Homo sapiens: one gene and its partner. The protein of the gene in region 2 purifies or fractionates together with the protein of the main gene of each other region. This does not show direct contact. Each region holds a gene or a part of one and is shown on either strand. Other genes may lie near its edges.

Region 1 (4,121 bases), on a different chromosome or scaffold from region 2:
CATTTGTCAAACTCATAGAATATACAACACTAAGAGCGAACCTTAACGTAAACCTTGGTCTTGGGTGATAATGAGGTGTCCAGTCTAGGTTCACTGATTGTAACAAACATACCACTCTGGTACAGAACGTTATTAGTGCAAGAGGCTTGGGGAAAAGCAGAAAGGGTATATAAGAACTCTGTTCTTTCTGCTAAATTTTGCTATGAACCTAAAATTGCTTTTAAAAAATTAATTGGGCAAAGGACTTGAATAACATTTCTCCAAGGAAAATGTATAAATGCCCCACACGCATACTTTTAAAATGTGCAACATCATTAAATCATTAGAGAAATGCAAATCAAAACCAAAAGGACATACCACCTCACACTCATTTGATGGCTATTTTCATTTTAAAAAGAAAGAAAAGAACGGAATGTGTTGGCAAGGATGTAGAAAAAGGTGAACCCTTGTGCACTGTTGCTGAGAATGTAAAATGATGTAGCCCCTATCAAAAACAGTATGGCCGTTCCTTAAATAATTAAAAATAGAACTACCACACAATCCAGCAATTCCACTTCTGGGTATATATTCAAAAGAATTAAAGCACGGTCTTGAAGAGGTATGTGCACACCTATATTCATGACAGCACTATTCAAAGTAGTCAAGAGGTAGAAGCAACACAAATGTCCATCAATGGATGAATAAACAAAATTTGGTATATACATACAAAGTACTACTACTGTCTTAAAAAGGAAATTCTGCAGCCAGGTGCAGTGGCTCATGCCTGTAATCCCAGGACTTTGGGAGGCTGAGGTGGGAGGATCGCTTGAGTCCAGGAGTTCAAGATCGGATGGGGCAACATGGAGAAACCCGTCTCTACCAAAAGTACAAAAAAATTAGCCAGGCCTGGTGACCTGCATTTGTAATCCCAACTACTCGAGAGGCTGAGGCGGGAGGATCACCTGAGCCCAGAAGGTAGAGGCTGCAGTGAGCAGTGATCTCACCACTGCACTCCAGCCTCGGTGGCAAAGCGAGACCCTGTCTCAAAAAAAAAAAAAAAGGAAATTCTGACATATGCCACAACATGGATGTATTTGAAGACATTATGCTAATTGAAAAAAGCCAACCACAAAAAAACAAATACTGATTGTATCTAGAGTAGCCAAATTCACAGAGAGAGAAAGTGAAATGGTGGTTCCAGGGACTGGGGGAAGGAAGGAATGGGGAGTTAATAGGTATAGAGTTTCAGTTTTGCAAGATTAAAAAGTTCTGGATATTGGATGGTATATAAGTTTAGTCTAAAGCTATGCCTTTAGATATTTTAAGTTCAGCCTAGGGGTTCTCGGTATATAGTGAACTATAACCTAGTAAACAGGCTGTAACCTACGCTTGAACCAATCACTGAGTTTCAGCCAAAGATGGCCACGTGTTCAAACCATGTTCAAACGGGCAAAAACCAAGCTGTAACCAATCAACTCTTTCTGTACCTCACTTCTATTTTCTGTACCTCACTTTACTTTCTCTCTCCATAAATTTTCTCCCACCAAGCGGCAGGACTCATCACTCTGAACCTTATTCTGGTTCCGGGACCTGCCCAATTCGCAAATCATTCTGTGCTCAAACTCCGTTAGATTTAATGTGTCTAAAGTTTTTCTTTTAACAGTGCACAACCATGTGAATAACTTAACACTACTGAACTATACACTTAAAAATAGTTAAGACGGTAAATTTTATGTTACCTGTATTTTACCACAATTAATTTTTTTTAAAAAAAAGCTGAGTTCACTGGCCAAAATAATTTCAAAATTCAATTCCAAAAATATAAATGCTAGGCACCAAGATTCTTGGTGCATCAGAACTATCTTCATCTTTCCTTTTCCAGAACAAGTTCTAGGCACTAAGATTCTTAGCACATCAGAACTATCTTCATCTTTCCTTTTCCAGAACAAGTTCCAGCTGCCTAAACAGGCTGAAAGTCTGGGGCTGTTTCGGCGATCAAATGACCAAACTAGAGCAGGCAATGGCTTCCACGTAGATGAAGCTGAGCATTTTAAATTCAAAAATTTCTGCCCATTGGCTACTACGTAATAACTTAAAACACAATTTAGACTGACTTAGGAAGCTTCTGTGTTGAGCAACTTCCTCAATAATCCTCAAAGACCTGTTGCATTCTGGGCCCTGCGGAGAGGAAATAGTGCCGTCAGGGAGCTTCCAGCCTAGCACAGGACGGTAAATATAAGCCTGTAACGCGAAACCCCACAGAACAAAAACATCAGGCCGTGGATTCCACTCGTGTGTACGTCAGTCACAGTGATCAACCGACTCATTTCCACGACGTTTCTTTTCACTTCAAGATGCCAAATTCAGGCTGCGGCGGTTTCCATCTGTCCCTTCCTACACCGCGGCGCCCGCTGGGGAGCCGGGGCGCACACAGGACAGCCGCAAGCCTTCTGGGCCTGGCGCCCTCCCACACCCGCTAGGAGGGGAGGAAGCGCCTCCCCGACTCCCTGAGGAGGGCGCCAGTCCTCTGGTACCCGGAGAAGGAGGGCCGGGAGCTCAGTGAGCACTCCCTGTGAGTCCCAGGAGATGGCCGCTCTCCCTCGGAAGCCGGAAGTCGGCTTCTAGAGGCCGAGCAGTGCAGACAAGCGGCTGGGAGGCACTGGAGAGGGGACAACGTACCCATTCGGATGTGCACGGTGGCGGAGGCCACGCTGCTGCCATAGTTGAAGTCGTCCTCGATCGAGGAGCGAGGGTACCGGGGGTCGGGGTCAGCCATGATGGCAACAGCACCCCTACCGGTCCCGGTCCACTAACCGCAACCGCCTCCTCCCCACTTCCGCGAGGAAGAGCCCAGCCCCAGCAAGCCGTGCGGCGTCGGCGGGCGAACACCGAGCGAGTCGATTTTCTCGCTTCAAAAATTCCAGCTGGGCGGAGAAAGCGGGGATGGCTCCGAGTTAGAATGGAAGAGAAAACGGTTTACATTCCCGGCGTCATCTGAAGTGAAACTTTTCTCAACACACTTTTTTTTTTTTTTTTGAGATGGAGTTTCACTCTTGTTGCCCAGGCTGGAGTGCAATGGCACGATCTCGGCTCACCGCAACCTCCGCCTCCCGGGTTCAAGCGGTTCTCCTGCCTCAGCCTCCCGAATAGCTGAGATTACAGGCGCCTGCCACCACGCCAGGCTAATTTTTTTATATTTTTAGCAGAGACGAGGTTTCACCATGTTAGCCAGGATGGTCTCGATCTGCTGACCTCGTGATCCGCCCGCCTCGGCCTCCCAAAGTGCTGAGATTACAGGCGTGAGCCACCGCGCCCAGCCTGAACACACTTTAAGTCCTTTCACCTTGGAGAGTTGCTAAAGTGATAGAACCCATGTCCCAGTCACCCATCCACTCAACAAATACCCATCTCATTCATCCACTTTTTCAATAATCACACCGAGGATGCATTTTTACTTCTATTATTTTAAAATAATAATAATACCTACATTTATTGAGCACTTTCTATAAACCAGGCTTTCTGAATGAAGTAATATTTAATCCTGAAAGGCAAGTAGGAGCCAACCAGAGAAAGAGCAGTGATGTAGGCTGGGCCTCAAGGGACCAACGTCTGCAAAGAGGGAGACGGTGAAGCTCAGCTGGTGTAGGGGACAGGTGGCAAAGAATGAGGCTGGATAGATAAACAAAGGCCAGATCATCCTAGGCCAGAAGTAGAATACATTGAAGAGGGCCATTACCAAAGGCAGAGAAAAGGGGATAAAGTTGTATTACTGTAAGAGAGAGATGATGGTGGCAAATACAATGGATTAGAGTGAATATTCATGATATTGTTGTCATTCCAATATAAAGAGGTGTAGACATACCCAGAGTAGTGTCATCCTAGGGTCCCTTGGAATTGTTTTGATGAGTTTACTCTGATCTACCCACATTGCCCAGTCCTCACCTTAACCACAACACCCGAACACTTAGCAAGTGGAATTCAGAACAGTTGTGGAACAGTCTATTCTAAACTAAATCCTTAAACTTGATGTTCTCAGAAGCCTTTGCCAAAAGAACTAACGTCACTTCCACAATGACAAGAAAAACAAAACAAAACAAAAAAACACTTTATCTTTTATGATTTTACAAACATTTTACAAGCAT
Region 2 (4,836 bases):
ATGGTGAAATCCCGTCTCTACTAAAAATACAAAAATCAGCCAGGTGTAGTGGCACATGCCTGTAATCTCAGCTACTCGGGAGGCTGAGGCAGGAGAATCGGCTTGAACCCGGGAAGCGGAGGTTGCAGTGAGCCAAGATCACGCCACTGCACTCCAGCCTGGGTGACAGAACAAGATTCTATCTCAAAAAACGAAACAAAACAAAACAAAACAGGTCATCTACTTTTAAGTTAACACATTTGTTCGGTAAGTAGGGCAACTTGCTGGGTGCCGTGGCTCATGCCTGTAATTCCAGCACTTTGGGAGGCCAAGGCGGGTGGATCACAAGGTCAGGAGTTCGAGACCATCCTGACCAACATGGTGAAACCCCGTCTCTACTAAAAATACAAAAATTTGCTGGGTGTGGTGGCACGCCCCTGTAATCCCAGCTACTCGGGAATGCTTGAACTAGGGAGGCGGAGGTTGCAGTGAGCTGAGATCATGACACTACACTCCAGCCTAGGGGACAGAGCGAGACTCTGTCTCAAAAAAATAATAATAATTAAATAAAAATAAAGAGGGCAACTTATATATGTACTGTTCAAGGTAGGCTTTTGAAATACCTTGAGAATAACTGCAATTGGACTAAATCCAGAACATCTTAAAGTCTAGAATTACTGGAAAAGAAGGTAGTGATGACAGAATTTTGTGAAGGCAATTAGACATGCCCAGCAGGCAACACGAATAATTAAGTTAACGGGAAAAGTTTTTTCATTTGCCTCCAATTTGAGACCTTAACTGAATTAACTACCAGTGCTGAATGGATTGATAGCCTACAGAACCCTTAATTATCTTACCCATTATAGATAAAGTAATGTCACACTTTTGCTGTTAACGGACCTTAAGTTTCTTTCTTACAGACCACAGTATCTTTTCATGGAGAGCTGTACTTTGAGAATACATATGTCCAGGGCTGGAGACTTTTCACTGTAATATATAGTTACACCTGTGCTGTCACAAGGTTCCTTAGGAACGAATAAGAAGTCAAAAGAACTAAGAAAGTGCCGGCCGGGCGTGGTGGCTCACGCCTGTAATCCCAGCACTTTGGGAGGCTGAGGCGGGCGGATCAACTGAGGTCAGGAGTTTGAGATCAGCCTGACCAACATGGAGAAACCCCGTCTCTTAAAATACAAAATTAGCCTGTAATCCCAGCTACTCGGGAGGCTGAGGCAGAAGAATTGCTTGAACCCAGGAGACCTCGGAGGTTGCAGTGAGCTGAGATCACGCAATGATTGCACTCCAGCTTGGGCGACAGAGTGAGACTCTGTCTCGAAAAAATAAATAAACTCAGAAATTATGACCAAATAAGAAGGAGGAAAATTAGTATATATCCTCCTATGTTTTCATATAATGTATATATATATTTTTTGAGATGGAGTTTCTCTCTCTTGTTGCCCAGGCTGGAGTGCAATGGTGCCATCTTGGCTCACTGTAACCTCTGCCTCCCGGGTTCAAGCAATTCCCCTGCCTCAGCCTCCCGACTAGCTGGGATTACAGGCATGCACCCCCACGCCCGGCTAATTTTTTATTTTCAGTAGAGATGGGGTTTCTCCATCTTGGTCAGGCTGGTCTCGAACTCTTGACCTCAGGTGATCCACCTGCCTCAGTCTCCCAAAGTGCTGGGATTACAGGCGTGAGCCACCGTGCCCAGCCGACACAAATATGTTTAAAGTCAAACACATTTCTACAGTATCAACAGTTGTGTAGTATAACCAGTTCTGGGAAGCTCCCTCTTAAGAATTCCTAACATTTCGTATGACAAATAGCAAGAAGATGAATACACTTTGTAGTTAAATCTTTATATATCCTTTATTATTTCCTTGATAAATTCCTTTCTTTTTTTTTTTAGAGACGGAGTTTCTCTCTTGTTGCCCAGGCTGGAGTGCAATGGTGCGATCTCAGCTCACTGCTACCTCCGCCTCCCGGGTTCAAGCAATTCTCCTGCCTGGGCCTCCCAAGTAGCTGGGATTACAGGCATGTGCCACCATGCCCAGCTAATTTTTTTTTTTTTTTTTTTTTTTTTGAGACAGAGTCTTGCTCTGTCACCCAGGCTGGAGTGCAGTGGCGCTGTCTTGGCTCACTGCAAGCTTTGCCTCCCGGGTTCACGCCATTCTCCCGCCTCAGCCTCCTGAGTAGCTGGGACTACAGGCGCCTGCCACCACACCCGGCTAATTTTTTTGTATTTTTAGTAGAGACAGGGTTTCACCGTGTTAGCCAGGATGGTTTCGATCTCCTGACCTCGTGATCCGCCCGCCTCGGCCTCCCAAAGAGCTGGGATTACAGGCGTGAGCCACCGCGCCTGGCCTAATTTTTATATTTTTAGTAGAGACAGGGTTTCACCATGTTGGCCAGGCTGGTCTCAAACTCCTGACATTGCATGATCCACCCGCCTTAGCCTCCTAAAGTGCTGGGATTACAGGCATGAGCCATCACACACGGCCAAGATAAATTCTTAAAAAAGAAAGAAAAAAAAAAAAGAGAGAAAAAAGAAAAAAGATAAATTCTTAAATGGAATTGCTGAACAAAAGTGTATCATGTACAATTTGTAAGGCCTTGAATAAATGCTGCCAAAGTAGCCTCTAGAAAGATTTTAACTGCAATGTACATTCCTTCTAGTTATATAAGGACTCATTTTAGGCATTTTAACAAATTCAAAAATACAGAATATTCTGATACCTCAGCAATAGCCCACTCATTTACAGAACAATTTTAGCATTATTATTTCACTGACCTTAACAACCTCTAGGATACGAACTGTACTAGCAAAATCATTTAACCGTCTGCATGCCCGCAAAGCAGCATCAATGATTTTGGGCTCTGGAACCATATCATAGGTAACAAGTGTGTTTATCCCTGCAAAATTAAAAAGAAGGGCCATGTCAACCTCGAAGAGCCTCACTTAAACTATGAGTTATTTATATTTTTACTGAATCACTGATGTATGATCTTATCTGTCTGGGTCTCCATTCTCTTACCTATAAAATGAGAGAAACCTACCTTTAACAAATTCTAGATAATAAGATCACAGTGGATCTCCCTTAGTGAATCAGTGGAAAGAAAGAACTATGCAACAGCACGCAGATTGAAGGAAAAAATCCTGAGTTTTTTTTTTCCCCTTTGAGAACAAGAGGGTCATTTTCAACTCCTAACTTTTTTTTTGGAGATGGAGTCTTGCTCTGTCACCCAGGCTGGAGTACAGTGGTGCCACCTCAGCTTACTGCAACCGCTGCCACCTGGGTTCAAGTGATTCTCCTGCCTCAGCCTACCAAGTAGCTGGGATTACAGGCGGGTGCCACCAAGCCCAGCTAATTTTAGTATTTTTAGTAGAGACGGGGTTTCAGCATCTTGGCCTGGCTGGCCTTGAACTCCTGACCTCGTGATCCACCTGCCTCGGCCTCCCAAAGTGCTGGGATTACAGGCATGAGCCACCACATCCGGCCCTCCTATCTTTAACTCTTAGTACAATGAACACATTTTGGATGCTTTAAAAGAGATTCAAGGCTGGGCTCAGGTGGATCACCTGAGGTCAGGGGTTCAAGACCAGCCTGGTCAACATGGAGAAACCCTGTCTCTATTAAAGATACAAAATTGGCCGGGCGTGGTGGCACATGCCTGTAATTCCAGCTACTCTCGAGGCTGAGGCAGGAGAATCACTTGAACCCAGGTGGTGGAGGTTGCAGTGAGCTGAGATCGCGCCATTGCACTCTAGCCTGGGCAATAAGAGAGAAACTCCATCTCAAACAAAACAAAACAAACAAACAAAAAAACCAAAATAAAAGAGATTCAACTGGAAAACAGCCTAAAAACAGCCAGAGAAATGCGTAGAGTTAATGAAGCCTAAATGAGGACATTAAGGAGATATTATAGAGAAACATTAGTACACAGACTCATAAACATTCAACCAGAAAATGATTGGGCATGATTACTTTCAGATCTGCACAAAATGACACATAATAAAATTTAAGATTCTCTTAATGGGAATACATAATTGTTCTTTTTATTACTTCTACTCCAGATTGTTCAGTAAGAATTCTATTGGTTGTAGCAAAAGGGAATCATTACATTTCTGCAGAGAAGTTTAAAGCACTTAGGTTTCTTGCTTTTATTACTTTAAAATATTTAAACAAAGGATACCAGTGAATACGATAGTCATTGAGATTGAATTTTTGGTATGAGATAAATTACCCTACACCTAATTCTATTTTTTCATGTTAAGTGTGCATCTGCAAATTTAGGAAAGACAAGTTCTAACTTACTTAGATACTTATTCATGGCAAAACAATGCAAAAATAACAAAAAACCCAAACCATCACCCAAAGGGGAAGGGAACCAAATGACTGCTTTGTGTAAATTCTTTTTTTTTTTTCTGAGACAGAGTCTCACTCTGTTGCCCAGGCTGGAGTGCAGTGGCGCGATCTCGGCTCACTGCAAGCTCTGCCTCCCGGGTTCACGCCATTCTCCTGCCTCAGCCTCCCGAGTAGCTGTGACTACAGGCGCCCGCCACCACGTCCGGCTAATTTTTTTGTATTTTTAGTAGAGACGGGGTTTCACCATGTTAGCCAGAATGGTCTTGATCTCCTGACCTCGTGATCCGCCCACCCTGGCCTCCTAAAGTGCTGGGATTACAGGCGTGAGCCACCGCGCCCGTGCTATGTAAATTGTTTGAAATGTACAAAACTGTTACCTTTTGCTCATCTAGCCTTATTGCTATAGCAGTGGTTTTCAATTAAGGGTGACTTCATCCCTCAGGAGACACTGGGTAATGCCTAGAAACATTTTTGGTTGTCATGATACGAA

Evidence for each region. Proteins that work in one complex are often made in the same cells at the same time.
Region 1: the proteins of COX5A (region 2) and TMBIM4 purify together in Homo sapiens (co-immunoprecipitation; one large-scale study listed by IntAct). This does not show direct contact.

What each region holds. Positions count from the first base shown.
Region 1 is NC_000012.12:66,167,197-66,171,317, forward strand, and holds the start of TMBIM4 (protein lifeguard 4), read right to left. Parts: upstream 2,801-4,121; 5' UTR 2,756-2,800; coding exon 2,659-2,755; intron 1-2,658.
Region 2 is NC_000015.10:74,923,996-74,928,831, forward strand, and holds part of COX5A (cytochrome c oxidase subunit 5A, mitochondrial precursor), read right to left. Parts: intron 2,893-4,836; coding exon 2,771-2,892; intron 1-2,770. UniProt on the Homo sapiens protein: Component of the cytochrome c oxidase, the last enzyme in the mitochondrial electron transport chain which drives oxidative phosphorylation.